Homo sapiens: one gene and its partner. The protein of the gene in region 1 interacts with the protein of each later gene in a pairwise test. Each region holds a gene or a part of one and is shown in the gene's direction. Other genes may lie near its edges.

Region 1 (7,803 bases):
GACACGGCGGCTCCTCCAGGCCCATTAATAACCCGGAGGGCGCTGCGATCCGACAGCGCAGTCGCCACAGGCTCTATTTCCCGTGGCCGCCTGCCTCCTTCCAGCCCAGTTCGAGTGGAGGGATACTGGGCGCCCACTACCGCCCGGCCCGGAGGGTGGGGGTCCCTCTCGCGCAGGCTGCTTTGGAGAGTGTCGGAGAGAGACAGCTTTATCTACAGCTTCACCCATTGTATAGCACAACAGAATCGCATTTAGCCTGGAGAACAGCCGTCGGGGCAGGAGTTGGTGCCTTCTCTAACAATTAGGCTGATCGTTAAATTTGCTATTCCTTTCTTCCGGCGTCTAGGGAGAGCGTGCACACCAAACCCTCCAGAACAGCACCCCGGTCCCCCACCCCGCCCCACCTGTCCCCGCCCTGCTTCAGTGCCTGGAGGGAGAACTGACTGGTCGCTTGAGGGACCCCATTTCGGGCGCGCCCTTGGAGTCCTGGGGCTGCGGCTCCTGCTCTACCGGGCTGCAGGCTTGCTCTGCCCCGTCCCGTGGCGTTTGGGAGGCAGTCGAGGAAGCCTCCGAGTCTCTGGGTCGAAGGAAGTGCGAATGGCACCCGCGATAGACTGGCCGTCTCCCCCACCCCGCCCCGTCTGGTGATTTTAAATCGTCTCCTGTGTAATTGTAAAAAGAGGAAAGCTGAATACCCAGACGACCAGTATAGAATCTCTTCGAGACAGCAGATTGGGCAAGAGACGGGCTTTTTTTCGCAATACAAGGATAAACACATCCTGAAACTCCAGATAGAAACCTCAGGAATGGGCGAGAGGGTCAGAAGGAACGAGAGACAGTAGGGAAGAGAGAGAGAGAGACAGAGACAGAGGGAGAGATGCAGAGAGACTGAAACGGGAGGAAGAAGCCTGGAACTGTCGGTTCCGTGGAGAGCGGACATGCTATCTGCGCCCAGATCCGAAGGCTTTTTGGGGAGCCTAGAGTCCTGGCCCGGTACCAGGCAGATCTGGGTGCGGCGAATTCCAAGGGAGCGGCGCGGGTTCTCTTCTCCTCCTCCTCTGAGTTGCTTCGGTGCCCCCAAGGCATCACCTTCCTCGAAGGTGGCTTACCCAGGCGGGCGGTGATGCTGTTGTCTCGGGAGTTTACTCAAAGATGGGCCGCTCGGGGCGGCCGGATTAACCCGCTCCCTTCCCTTCCTCCTTCTTGTCTCCCGCAGGTTGCGACATGTGCGCGGACAACCGCAACGGCGAGTGCCCTATGCATGGGCCACTGCACTCGCTGCGCCGGCTTGTGGGCACCAGCAGCGCTGCGGCCGCCGCGCCCCCGCCGGAGCTGCCGGAGTGGCTGCGGGACCTGCCTCGCGAGGTGTGCCTCTGCACCAGTACTGTGCCCGGCCTGGCCTACGGCATCTGCGCGGCGCAGAGGATCCAGCAAGGCACCTGGATTGGACCTTTCCAAGGCGTGCTTCTGCCCCCAGAGAAGGTGCAGGCAGGCGCCGTGAGGAACACGCAGCATCTCTGGGAGGTAAGTGGCCGGCTGCACAGCGCCTCCCCACCGAGCAGGAGCCTTGGCCAGCAGGGAGCCTTGGCCGGCAGGGAGCCTGGCCTTTGGCTGTGGCAACTGCGAAGAGAGCCTCCCTTGGCCCCCAGAGGGTAGCGGAGAATAGATTTCTCTGGTCCTGTAGATGCCTGGTGTCTGAAGCACCTGCAGTAAGGAGGCTGACAGAGCTGGGACTGACACAATAGCAACCCAGCCAGGGAAACAGCCTACAGGTGTCTGAAGACAGAGTCACCTTAAGCTGCCTCCATTCCAGCTGGAATGGATTTGACCGTTGGTCTCTGTGAATTTTGAGAAAAAGAGAAAACAGCTGAGGAGATGGAGCAGCGGAGGGTGGGCATTAGAATGTTTGAGCTGGGTGACCTTTATGTCCCATTCCAAGCACTTCCAGTGTGTTTCTGTGTAGTGAGCAGAAAGGAACAGAAGCATAGAGGGGAGGAAGGAGAGGCTGGCCCCTTTTCTCAGATAAAAACAATTTTGTCAAAGTTGAACGTGAGAGATCACATGTTTCACAACTTTCAAAGGGCCCAAAGTAAGCAAATTATATTGGGAATCAAAGGGCCCAAATTAAGCAAATTATATTGGGAATCAGAAATCGCAAATTCTGCTGCTTCTCTGATGAACGGAAATTATGTAATCTTCATCAATATGGAAAATCAAAACATGGGAACAGTGTGAGCACTTTGGTGTAACCCAATTGAGGGTAATACTTTAATGGCACAATCTTACCTGAAGCAATTATTTAAAAATAACCTATTTGAAAAATGTCAGCCTGAGGTTTCTCCCAAAACATCATGGTGGATTATTGAGGTTCACTTCTGAAGAGATAGATGCCTATCATTAGGTCATCCCCCTACCAATCTTAGCCACCTCCATCCATGGAAAGTTGCTTATGTAATACAAGATGACAGAAGTCATACCCTTAAACAATATGTAAATCTGACTAACTGGGCAAGTGGTATAATAAAGTAGGAATAGCTAGAAAATAAAGTTTCTTAAATGCCAGGGGTCAGGTTGACATGAACCCCTGGGCTCCATTAATGCATCGTTTCTGCAAGAGATTGCCTCTCATACTTGGCTTGCTGGCCTGTCAAAATGATCTTTTTCACTGTGAGCTGCCTTATATTCACTAAATAAAGCTCATGGGACTCATTAATCCACTCAAATTTTTGATGAGTGCCCACTCTGGCCAGCACTATATTAGGCCATGGAGATACAGTATGAAAAACAGACCTGGTATCCGGAACCCTCCTGTGACTGTTGGGGATGGGGTCCTGAGGCCTGTGTCTGCAAAGCCTCTTTTGATGGAGGAGGAGCTGAGTGTATGAGTCTACAGCCCAGCAGCCCAAAATGAGGACGTGGAAGCCAATGAACTACCTACCCTATAGTTATCTGCTGGAGTGCCCCGGCTCAAAGCATCTGGTTTGGAAACATTTTGGTTTTTGTTTCTGACTAATTAATTGTAACCTCCAATGTGGTTTAAAGTTTATAAAACACTTTTAGGTACTTCTCATGTTCCAGTAGTGTTATTAGGAACTCTAATATCATATAGTTAAAGGTCTGCCAATATTTTTCTAAGAAAATCGTACAGCAATTGTTCAATAGTACAAATTTACTCTACCTGAAAATGTTAAAACTGAACACTATTATATTGCCCTTTGATGCCTATCTATTTTTAGAGTGCCAGGGGACAAAGACATAAACATGAACAAAAATCTCATAGTTCATTGTGGGTTTTTTCCCCCCCAGAAGGCTTTGAATGATTGGGATGTTGGCAGGAGGCCACTACACATATAGACTATAACAATGCATATTAACACTGAAAACTATGAAACCTTTCTTTTCTACCTTTACTTGTACTTGATGAAGTTAAAATTTTGTTGTAGTAAAGAGACTGGGGAATTTAGTCAGTGTTTTTCTTTTTCTTGATACTTCAGTAGATATAAAGTGAATTTTATCTATTGTTCAGGGCATGTGAGTTGAGTGTGCTGGGATGGTTCTTAGAGTTGGTTCTCTGTTAGAAAAAAGACTTGCTGGGTGTATGCTTGGATGATCTACAGGATCCAACTCCTAAATTCAGGACATAATCTATTTTTTTTAATTATCTGTAACAACAGTTAGAATAAGGTACATTTGGGAATTGAAGGGATTTTAAAACTTTAGCCATACAAAATGTGTCAGTCTCCTGGGAGATCACGTGAAATGCGACTAACTGGGGCCAGGTAACTTAGTGCCAATATCCATTTGTAAAATAAAATACTTACTTTATAAAATAGGTTTCAGATTTTTATTAGCATAATGATTTTTAAGATATAGAATATGAGTTTAAAATTTTTAAGCATTATGATTTATTTTTATGAAACATGACCGTTTGAATTGTTACATTTATAATACAATATTCCAAATGTTAGATTGTTCCTTAAATTTTAGTTCTTTCTTTCAAAGCTAAATTTTCTTCTGAAATTTAAAAAAATCATCATATTATTCACATTAGAATCAGTAAGTAGAATACATTGTAGGTCTATCGGAAATGTTTGGCAATAATTGTTTAATGACTCATGTAATAATTATCCATTTCAAAAACTTATTCTTTTAGATGTCTTCCAGAATAGCAAGTCAACAAAATGTATTAAAAAAATTAAAAGCAGTTGAATCATGATTATTTTATTTTAAAAGGCAACTGTAATCATTTCTCTTCCTCACATTTTTTCAAGTCATTTGCTGATGAAGAAATGTCTTTTTATTTCAAGTTCAATACTCAGGTCCTGATGGATCTTACCAGGGTTACTTATCTTTATTTCAGTACAATAAATGGATTGCTAATCTTTTCCTGTCACTATTTCCAAGTAGATGATGGATTTTTGTTTCAGTTTACACTTCATTGTTTTTAGTATGGTTGTACTTTATTATACACATGAAGGCTTATTACAGAAACAATCAGATTCACCTTAGTTACTCCTTTTATTTAATCATTAGAAGCTCTATTTTCTTTGTAGAAAAATGACTTTTTGTTATTTAACATACATCAGCCATGGAGAGCTTGTTTGGTTTGTAAGCATGCAATCATTGTTTTAGTTAATATTTTCTTTGTGTATAATCATAGTTCTTCAAAATACAGCAATTTAAAGGAAGTTAAATATCATTTCATTATATTCAGTACATTTTGACTCTTCTGGGTATTTATGGGAAATTCCAAGAGAGTTGTTTTTTCTTTTTTTGCAATAAGCCAAGGTAATTTTTTATTTTTTATAGTTTAAGAAGATTACAAGCTAAAAGCCAAATAATTAGTCATTTATTTTTGCTAGTTTCTTTTAGAATCAGAATTTTAATGTGTTTTTTAAACAATAATAAATTCAGATACTTTAAAACAAAACATTACAAGGTGCATCAGACAATGACTTGCCTTGGTTATATATATTTATTCCAAGACTTGGATGCATGATACATTTCTAGCTATTTGGACATCATATGAAATAAAATCTTTCTCAATGTTTTCCAAAGAAAACAATCTTTCTCAGCAATTAGGTCTTATTGATGAGAATGAGATAATTTTATCCTAATGTGTTTTCCAATAAAGAAGTGAAAAGGCACATTTGATTCCAACATTTATGAAAACATTATCTCAATTATTAATGTGCCCCCTTTCTCTTGAGATAAATTAATCTAGTTGCACACGGTTTCCTCTTTCTGCTTAACATCAGAATTTAATATGACTGGACCTGAGGAATGTACCCAGTGTATACTTAAAATTCTACTGGAATAAAATACGGAAGTTTAAAATAAGGTTACAGTTTAAGATAGGCTAGAATTACTCAGGCCTTTCAACTCAGTGCCTGACTTGACAAGAAATTTTAGCAAGAATGACAAAATAAATTGCACTTATTTTCACCCTAGAAAAATTATCCTGCTAATTGAAATAATGTAGTGACTTGTTAGTAATACAGTTAAGATACTAGAAAGGGCTTTAATTTTACAGAACCTGTCTTCTCTTTGCCTGAGTAAATTTGAGTGTCTCGTTTTCATTTGCACTATGTGGAAACCTTCATTATTTTTCTTCAGAAAATCAAGGGGGATAACATAATGTGAGCCTTTTTGTGATTTGGTTTTGTGCCATAATATTTTAGATTTAATAAGAGTTTTGCTGTTAAGCAAATGGTCTATTTTTCATCATTACTGCTTAGCTTAAGTCAAAATATATTAATGAAAACCAATATTAAAAATATATTACACATTGCTAAATGTTTATATTTCAAAACCATCATAGGTAATTGGTTCTAGAAGAAAATGAATTGATTTCATATTTTAAATATATTATGTATGTTTCTATAAATGACTCAATTTCATATATACAGTACTATACCCACTTATATGTATTTAGATGTTGAAAAAATTATTTTAAATTAATCATTTTCAATTAAATTAGAATCACTTAAAAGTTGTCGCAGTGATAGTACTGTAATTATATATTCCATATTCTGCTTTATAGACTTTGGCTCATTTTGGCGTGATTCACCAAGACACTAGGGGATAGAATTATGTAGCTGTCGCAGTTATATTGAAGTAAAAATCATGTTTTTCAGCAATTTATCATTTAATATAATAGTCTGCCTGTCAGTTTGGTTTTGAATATGTCAAATTTGTGAAATTCAAATAATTTCTCCTTAAAAATAAACCATAGTAATGCTACTATTATGTTTTAAATTATGCAGAGTAACAGCTGGTGTATCTCTCTGGCTTTGCCTCATTTGATTTGAAGATGTCTTTTATAGTGGTGCCTATTTGATAGAGTGTGAGCATTTTGTAGTTTTACATAAACTGTAAAACCATCTGCCACCTCTTGGAATGGTTTCCAGCATTGTGTTAAAAGTCAAAACTTAGTACTTTAAGTTGCTTTGAAAATGTCCATTTAAAGTTCTGGTCCTTTTGGTTTATGTATCATGCTGCACAGTGCCACCCTTGGTTTTCTAAGTCCGAGAATAATTCTGCTTTAAAAAAAAATTATAACAGCCATTTGGACATTCTCACATCAGTGAGGTTTAATCCCAACATGCATGTGACACTACAGTGCTTTAGCTGCAAACACTTTATAAAGACTGATGAGTTCTGTATCCACCGGATTATTTTTCTCATTAGTTCAGTTTATCTATTTTTACAAATTGCTTCTTTTATCAATAGCATTTTCTCAATATGAAGAAAATAATTCACAAATATTTACTGGTCCATAACTGCATATTTTCTTACACCATGTAATTTTTTTTTCTTTTCCCACACTGACTTAAAAGTAAGGTATAAAAAGAGAAATCAGTATCTCAGAGGTTAGTGGGTAAATGAAACCTGCCCTCCCCAGTCACTGCCTGGCAGCAAGTGATCTGATGGAAATGTCATACCATAACACTGGTCCCAAGAAGCCTGCAGGGGAATCTTCTTATTTCACTGTGTAAATTAAAGCAGTTTTAATTTGAGAATATCTATTGTGTTACCCAGAAATCACTTACAGTTGTAGTATAATATGGATTAAAAATTGTTGTGATTGAATATGAAAAACTACACATTACTCAGCTGGGGAATATGCCTACAATATCAAAGTCCTCTTGTCTCAGAAGATGGATTTAATACACTGGTAGTATGGGAAAAACCATTTGCTATTCTAAAGAACCCTATATGTAGAACAACTATGAGCCTGCCTCCTTCGTTCTTTTTCTTTCATTCTTTTTTAGGATCGTATATACCCCAAGATTTCATTAGTTCAGACATTCCTTGTATATTTACACAGGAAATACAGACTTCGGTATAAGTACTTAGCATAAAAGTCAGAGAAGCCAGAGCAGAATATACTTTTCCTTGTAAGCATTTGCCACCTCACTCAAATAAGTTACAGAATTCCATTATCCAAATTGTTACACATGTGTGACAGAGGTTGACCTTTCGTCATGTCAATCCTTTTTGTGTAGGCCCCAGGCTCCAGCCTAATGGCTCAAACCCTGATTTACTCACTGTAATAAGGGCAGGAGGTCGAGCAATTGTCAGGCTGCCTGTTCGTACTCTTCTTGGAGCCTGGTTGAAGGCTGTTAACACAAAGCTTTTCAAAGTGAATTTACAACCAGCACCACTGACAGAGGCCAATCAGTGCACCATAAATGTCAGGTTAGTGAGATTGAGCAGTAAGTAAAGTACTGACAGCACACTATTGGCTGGAATCAATTGGCCAAGGTTTAACTGAGAAGAGCAATCTATGTGTGGCGGGCT
Region 2 (7,803 bases), on another chromosome or scaffold:
TCCCACCTTGGCCTCCCAAAGTGCTGGGATTACAAGTGTGAGCCACCACCCCCGGCCATAATCTCGTTTTCTTCAAGTCAGCTGTACCCTATAACATAAGCTCATCTCAGGAGAACTATATCTTCATACTCACAAGTTCCATCCATAACCACAGGGGAGGGACTACACAAGGGCAAGGGCCACGGGTCACCTTAGAATTCTGCCGGCCACACCAGCTTTTTGCAGGGAGTCCTATTCAGCTTTCCACCACAAATGAGCCTCAGGCTTCATCCCTAGTCCTGCTCAGGCTTAGAAAACCCCAGTACTAGTAGATGGACCTTTTTTCTAATATGCTTACGGGCCATTCAACCTCAGCTCCCGCTCACTTCTCTGGCTTTTAGTTCTCTCGTCATTTTCCATACCTGAGGTTTTCTTTTTCTTGCATTCAAGATTGGCATGCATTTAAAAATATTTGTGTTATATTATAACCAGTATGTTGAAGTATTTGGAATGATTGGGGTTTTGAATGATTTCTTCCCTCAGCGGCATGTCAGCAATATTTTCCAGATTTTTCATGTTTTAGAAATATGTACCAAGATTATACTCCAAATCCATCAAAATAAGTGAACTTTCAGAGTCCTACCCTCAGTAAAGTCATAGTTACCCTATAACTAAAGTTATAGGAAGAATTAGTGGTTGATCAACCTGAAAACTTACCAGTGTGTTCAGATGTGGGGCATAGTTTCTTCTTTTGCAGTAACTTTTCTTTATGTATCACCGGGAAAGCTAGATGTATGAAAATTAAAGAAAGTAAATTACGGTATCCTTCAAGACCTAAATCCTTTCTAATGAAACAGGCAGATTAATGGGCAAAGGACAGTCTTAACTGTTTTTTCTTGTCCCAATACCTCTTTCCAAATAGCTCAACACTGCTAACAGTATATTTATTCTGTTTCCATTTCAAATCTGTGAGCAGTTTTCAAAGTTATGATAAATGCTTTTCTTCAGATGTAGCTGAGCAGTATTTTCAAGAGAGCATGGCTCATCTTAAGGATTCTGAAGGGATGGGAAGAACCAAATTTCTTTCAATTCAAGATGAATTTTGCCATTTTCTACAAATGACTGGACAAAAAGAGGTAAGTGAGTTTGGATCACAATTGTCTAGTTATTCACAGTTGATATCCAAAGGGCAACTCCTTTACTCTGCAAGCATCCATTAAGCATCTACTGTGTGCAAAGCATGTGCCAGTCTCTAGAGGGACACATAAATAAGGCTAGGGCTCCTTTGGGGCAGCTTCCAGAGATACTTGCTCTTAGAAGCTGGGAGACTTTATGAGAATATAGATTGTCATGCCCACCTACAAAAGATCCTAAAGAAATAGTGGACAGGCCCTGCTTATTGAAGTCCTGCAGATCTGGCTGGAATAGTGTGGCAGTTAGTGTGTCTAATCCCTCTCTCCTCAGTTTGGGTAATGAATGGAGTTTGCATGTCTAAGGAAAACTATACGGTGCAGAAGTTACAGCTCAGTTGTTTAGTATTGATTCGTACAAGCGTGATTTACGTGGCTTATGAAAATAGAGCAAGACCCAGACCTTATATTCATTGGGAATTAAACCCTTGGGAATGCATTCCCTGCAAAGCCTAACATACCATTGCTTTATGTTTTTATATATGTGTGTGTGTGTACATATTAATACATATATATATATACAATCGCCCACAGATAGGAACAATTATATATATGTGTGTGCATATATATGTATATATGTATGTGTGCATGTATGCCCACACCCTCTTCTCAGCGCACCTAAGTCCTGTTTACTTTTCACTCCTCTCCGTTAAGTTTTTTTTTTTTTTTTTTTGAGACAGAGTCTTGCTCTGTCACCCAAGCTGGAGTGCAGTGGTGCAATCTCAGCTCACTGCAACCTCCGCCTCCTGGGTTCAAGCAATTTTCTGCCTCAGCCCCCCGAGTAGCTGGGATTACAGGCCCCCGCCACCATGCCCAGCTAATTTTTTTGTATTTTTAGTAGAGTTGGGGTTTCACCATTTGGCTAGGCTGATCTTGAACTCCTGACCCCGTGATCCGCCCGCCTCAGCCTCCCAAAGTGCTGGGATTACAGGCGTGAGCCACTGCGCCCGGCCTCTGTTAAGCTTTTCTTATCAGAGGTTAACGCCATCTCAATTTCCTAGAAAACCATACATACATACATATATACACACTCACACACATATATATATAGTTGTTCCTCAGTATCTGTGGGGGATTGGTTCCAGAGCCCCCAAGGATATCAAACTCCAAGGATGCTCAAGCCCTTGTACAAAATGGTGTCACATTTGTATATAACCTAGACAAAGCCTCCTGAATACTTTATATCATCTCTAGATTGCTTATAATACCTAATACAATGTAAATGCTATGGTAGTAGTTGTTACACTGTATTTTTTATTTGTATTGTTTTTATTGTTGTATTGTTATTTTTATTGTTTTTTCCCATATAATTTTTGATCTATGGATATGGAGGGCTGACTATGTATTTTTTTCAACTCTAACCTATCATGGCAAATCTTGGAAATGAAAAACTTTATTTCCCTTACCGTCTGTAGACCTCCTCCCCCACAGCTCTTTTCTCATCCTTAATCCCCCCTCCACCCCCGCCTTCTGTCAGCTAGGGAACACGGGCTTTTATGCCGATATACCTATGTTTCTCAGGCCAAAGTAGGGCCACAATCACCAGGACAAATTGGAGTTTCAGGATGTTTCTCAGTCACCCAACCCCAGGGAGAGAGAGGGGCCTTCCAGGGGCCTCAGACTCCCTCCCCATTCCCCCCTCACATCTCTAGAAGACAAGGGGAGTGCTCAGGTCAGAATAATGGGGTAGGTTTGCCCCCTCATGCCCCACTCCATCTAGTTCCTCAGCCATTTTTTCCTCCAAAATAGATCTTGAATGCATCCATTGTTTTCCATCTTTAGTCCTGCCACTCATCATCTCTTGCCTGGACCGCTCTAACAAGTTCCTATCTCTCAGCTGCTTTTTCCATGCTTGCCCTCTTCTAATCCACTCAGAATAAGGAAGCCATGGTGATGTTTCCAAAAAGCAGATCTGACCACTGAACACTCACTTGTAAAAGCCAGTCCACTGGCTCCCCGATGCCCTCAGGATAAACCAGAATCCTGACATGGCCCACAGTACCGTCCACGACCTGGACTCCACTGACATTTCCAGGCTCATTTTTGCCTCCTCTCCCTGATCCATGTTCCTGCCACACTGGCCTTTTCTAATTCCCACTTCCGGGCAGTGCCAGCTTCTGTTTCCTCCTCCTGGAAGGCCCTTCCTCATTCATCTCCAGGCCAATGCTAACCCATTCTTCATTTCTTACCAGCTTCTCTGATTCCTCTCCCCAGGCTTCATTAGATACTCCCCATTATTCTTCCTTAGAGAATCCATTTGATGTCATCAAATATTTGTAAGTATATATTCATGTGGATATTTAACATCTATCTTGCAACTAGACCGAACCTGTGAAAGCAGAGACCCTCTTGCCTGTGGTGAGGAGTGATGAGCAGAGAGGTGGATGCATGTTTGGCCACAGGCCAGCTGACTGTTCTGACTCCTGTGGGCCATGCATCAGTTCCCCTGTACTGCCTGGCTTCCCACCATAGTGTCTTGCTGAGTCAGCCAATGCTCAGTGTCACTGATGCTATGCCTCACTGCCCTTGCCCAAGTCACCCAGATCAGTGTTGATCAAAAGATGCACCTCACTCTCCTAAGCTGCCCTCGAAGATTTTAGCAAACTGGCTCTTTTCATTCTAGGGCCACTGCCAGCCCATCCAATGCCCTTATCATAATAGAAAAAGCTGCCCCTTCCTCAGGTAGATACCGCCCATGTTGGAGAGGACCATAGGCTGGATTTCAGCCCTCCCCATGCTCCTGCCAGGCACCCTTGTGTGTGGCACCACCTGCCCAGCCAAACATGGCAGTCTCATGCTGTTCTCACCATTTGGTTGCAAACCTCTCACTGTGGGTTCTAGCAGGTGTTGGCCAACAAGGGCCGGGCCCAGGGACAGTCCCGGAGCCAAGAATGGGGCTGTGCTCAGGCCATCCCAGGTGTTCCCACAGCACATGGCCATGGGCACTGTGGAACATGATATTTGAGGGATGAAATGCCTTTTAAGGTAAAATGTAAGTGAAGGTCACTCTGCCACAGGTTAAGCTACTCCGTGAGGGTTTGTCTTCTAGTTGTGCCACTCTTTTGCTCAAGAATCTTCTGTGACTTCCTCAGCCTGGCCACTCACTGGCCCTCAACAGGCCATGTGTTCCTCCTGTGCTCCCAGTGGCCCATACCCTCTTCTCATCCCACCTAAGTCCTCTTTACTCTTCACTCCTCTCTCTTAAGCTTTTCCTAGCAGAGGTTGATACTATCTCAGTTTCCTAGAAACCCGTGCCATTTAACTTCCTTCACATCTCCCCGTTTCCGCAGTCAGGCTGTAGGCGGCATCCAAAGCTTTATCTGGGAAAGGGAGTCTCCCCGGGTCTTCTCCCCATCACTGGCTCCTCTAAGTCTGACAGTGATATTTTCCCACAGAAATATCACCAAACCCAGCACTCTCAGCAGTCCAAGTCCTTGCTCTCAGAACTTGGGAGATGTGATGGGCTTTACCCTCAGGCAAGTCTAGATTTAAATTCTAGTCCCTCATGTACCTCAGTGGGGCCTCACTGCTGAGTTACACAATCACTCTGCCTCTACAGAGATTCCTCTTTCACCTGAGAAATTTATTTCTGCCTCATCAGCACCTGTAATGTGGTTCCCCTACCCCGGCCCTATCCCCTAACTTGTATTATTGCCAACAAAAGGATTAAACGCCCTCCTTGTCCTTCTGTTTGTGGAGCACTTTTGGGACCCCTTTGGGGCTGTGTCATGAGGAAGCTCCCATGGTCCCTGCTGTATTTGCCAGTTAAATTCAGCATCCATGCTCTGCAGCTGATGTCGTGCCTTCATGTGGAAGATCGTGGAAGAATTTCTGGAGAAAGTATGGAGGATTGACATACTTTAACAGGGTTTCCCCCTGCATATTTTGGTGTCTGAAGAAGCTAATATCAGGAAATACTATGTCCTGACCAATTCATAATTTTTATTCCATGTTAGTATAAATAAATTGGATAAACCAAACAAAATGTCATGTCATGTTGGAATGTTTACTTTCAGTTTCCTAAACGATTTCCTATGAGAATAGCCAAGCCTGGAGTGTGTTCAGGATGTTCTATACATAGATAATTTGCCCAGGAATGCTATATTTTCACTTCTGTAAGAATAGCATTGTGGACAGAGGGAGAAAAGCATGGGACTAAAATGTATGAAAATTAGACTGGGCATTGTGGCTCGCGCCTGTAATCCCAGCACTTTGGGATGCCAAGGTGGGTGGATCACTTGAGGTCAGGAGTTCAAGACCAGTCTGGCCAACATGGTGAAACCCTGTCTCTACTAAAAATACAAAAATTAGCTGGGTATGGTGGTGGGCGCCTGCAATCCCAGCTACTTGGGAGGATGAGGCAGGAGAATCGCTTGAACCTGGGAGGCAGAGGTTGCAGAGAGCTGAGATCATGCCACTGCACTCCAGGCTGGTAGACAAAGAGAGACTCTGTCTAAAAAAAAAAAAAAAAAAACCTCCAGATTTCCACCTGCTGTTGTAAAATGGAAGATCTGCTGAGACGGTGAGACGGATTTAAAAAAAAAAAAAAAAAAAGGTATGAAGATCACTGGCTGGATTCAGATCCTAGCACCACCACAGCTGAGCCCTCTGACTCTGAGCAAGTTTCTTAACTGCCGTGCCTGTTTCCTCCTCTGCCTAATGAGGATTAAAATTTTACCCATCTAAAGAAGACAGCAAAAATTAAATGAGACCCACACAATTGTGTGTGTTCAGCACAATTAGTGACATGTGAGGACTGATCCATGTCAGCTTTTGTTCTTACTACTCAACTGAAATGGATTCCTGTAATGGCTGAGTGGGTTTATTTTGCCAGGTGTCCTCTCTCTTCATAGTTTACACCTTTCCTCACATTCGTGTTGTTTCCTGACTCTTGTTCAACCAGAGGTGATATGATTTGGCTGTGTCCCCACCCAAATCTCGTCTTGAATTATAGTTCCTATAATACCCATGTGTCATGGTAGGGACCCTGTGGGAGGTGATTGAACCATGGGTGCGGTTACCCCCATGCCGTTCTTGCGATAGTGACTGAATTCTCACAAGATCTGATGGTTTTATAAGGGGCTTTGCCCCCTTTGCTCAGCACTTATCTCTCCTGCTGCCCTATGAAAGAGGTGCCCTCTGCCATGATTGTAAGTTTTCTGAGGCCTCCCCACCCATGTGGAACTGTGAGTCAATTAAACTTCTTGGCTTTATAAATTACCCAGTCTCAGGTATCTCTTCATAGCAGCATGAGAATGGACTAATACAAGAGGAGAACAGGCTCAGCTCGTGAGACTACCACACCCATGTGAAAATGTTACAAGTTGCGTAATGATCCTAATCAGCCTTTGAGCTTGTTAACCAGATAGCTTTTTGTTCCTTTCACAGAGAGCAACCTCGATCCTGAGAGAGTCCCTGGAAGCCAAAGTGGAAGCATTTGGCGATTTCAGTCCCGAGGTGGCAGAGACATACCGGCTCCTGGGAGGAGCAGACCTGGCGCAGGGGAACCACAGTGGGGCCCGCAAGAAACTGAAGAAGGTAAAGCTGGAACCAGTACTAACACGAGACTAGGCTCTCCCTCCCCTCTCCAAGGTCAATTTCTCTCCCTTGTGGTGGTTCTTTTAAATGAAACTTTAGAAGTGGCTTGTTTAGATAGGATGACATCACTTTTGTGGTAGATCTAACCTGATACTTTTTGGGTAAAAGACATAGTAAGCCTCTTAGACATACATATTTTTTAAATGAATTATCAGTTTTTACTATGCAAATATTTTTAATTTTTTACGTAGTACAATTGATCAGTCCTTTATGTTTGCGGTGCTCTCTCTATACTGAGTTTATAGAGGAATTCTCTTACACTTTCTTCAATTGTCATTCTTCTTTAAATTTGGAGTTTATTTGTGTGGATGGCATGAGGAATGGATCTAATCTTACCTTTTTTCCAAATGGCCACCCAGTTGTCCAGCACCATTTAATTAGAGAGCCCATCTATGCTCCAGTGACTTCAGATAACACCTTCATCATATACTGATTTTCCTTATGGACTTAAGTCTATTTCTAGATTTCTCTTCTCTTCCACTAGTCTTTCTGTTTATTCATGTGTCAATATTTCAGTTTTAATTACAGAGATTTTATAGAATGATTTAATATGTGATAGGAGTAGACACCCCTTATGGCTTTTCTTTTACTAGAATATCAGGTGTTCTAGCTATTCTTCCGTGTTTATTTTTCTACATGAATTTTTGTATCAATTTGTCTAACTCCATAAAGAGCTTACTAGTATTTTTATTGCATTATTTATAAATAAATCTTGTGAGAATTGACAACTTTGTGATATTGAGTTTTTCTATCCAAGAACAAGGGATATCTTTCCATTTCTTCATTCCTACTTTTGTATCTTTCAGGCACATCCAAAAGCGTTCTTCATATAGGTTTTGTATATTTCTTATTAAGTTTAATTCTAACCATTTGATCTTCGTTATTACTATTATAAATGGAGATTTATCTACTGTTATATCTTTTGATTTTTTTAATATATGAACCCAGTTGGTTTCTCTGTGTAAATTTTATATCCTGCTAATTGCTTAATTCTTTCATTGCTTGAGTTAATTCAATCATTGAGTCTCCCAGGTTT

What was found.
Region 2: the proteins of PRDM6 (region 1) and TTC23 interact in binary tests that used the Homo sapiens proteins (3 or more experiments, as listed by UniProt).

Annotation. Positions count from the first base shown.
Region 1 is NC_000005.10:123,098,438-123,106,240, forward strand, and holds part of PRDM6 (putative histone-lysine N-methyltransferase PRDM6), read left to right. Parts: intron 1-789; exon of another isoform or gene 790-1,100; intron 1,101-1,216; coding exon 1,217-1,524; intron 1,525-7,803. UniProt on the Homo sapiens protein: Putative histone methyltransferase that acts as a transcriptional repressor of smooth muscle gene expression.
Region 2 is NC_000015.10:99,155,052-99,162,854, reverse strand, and holds part of TTC23 (tetratricopeptide repeat protein 23), read left to right. Parts: intron 1-987; coding exon 988-1,115; intron 1,116-6,557; coding exon 6,558-6,707; intron 6,708-7,803. UniProt on the Homo sapiens protein: Participates positively in the ciliary Hedgehog (Hh) signaling.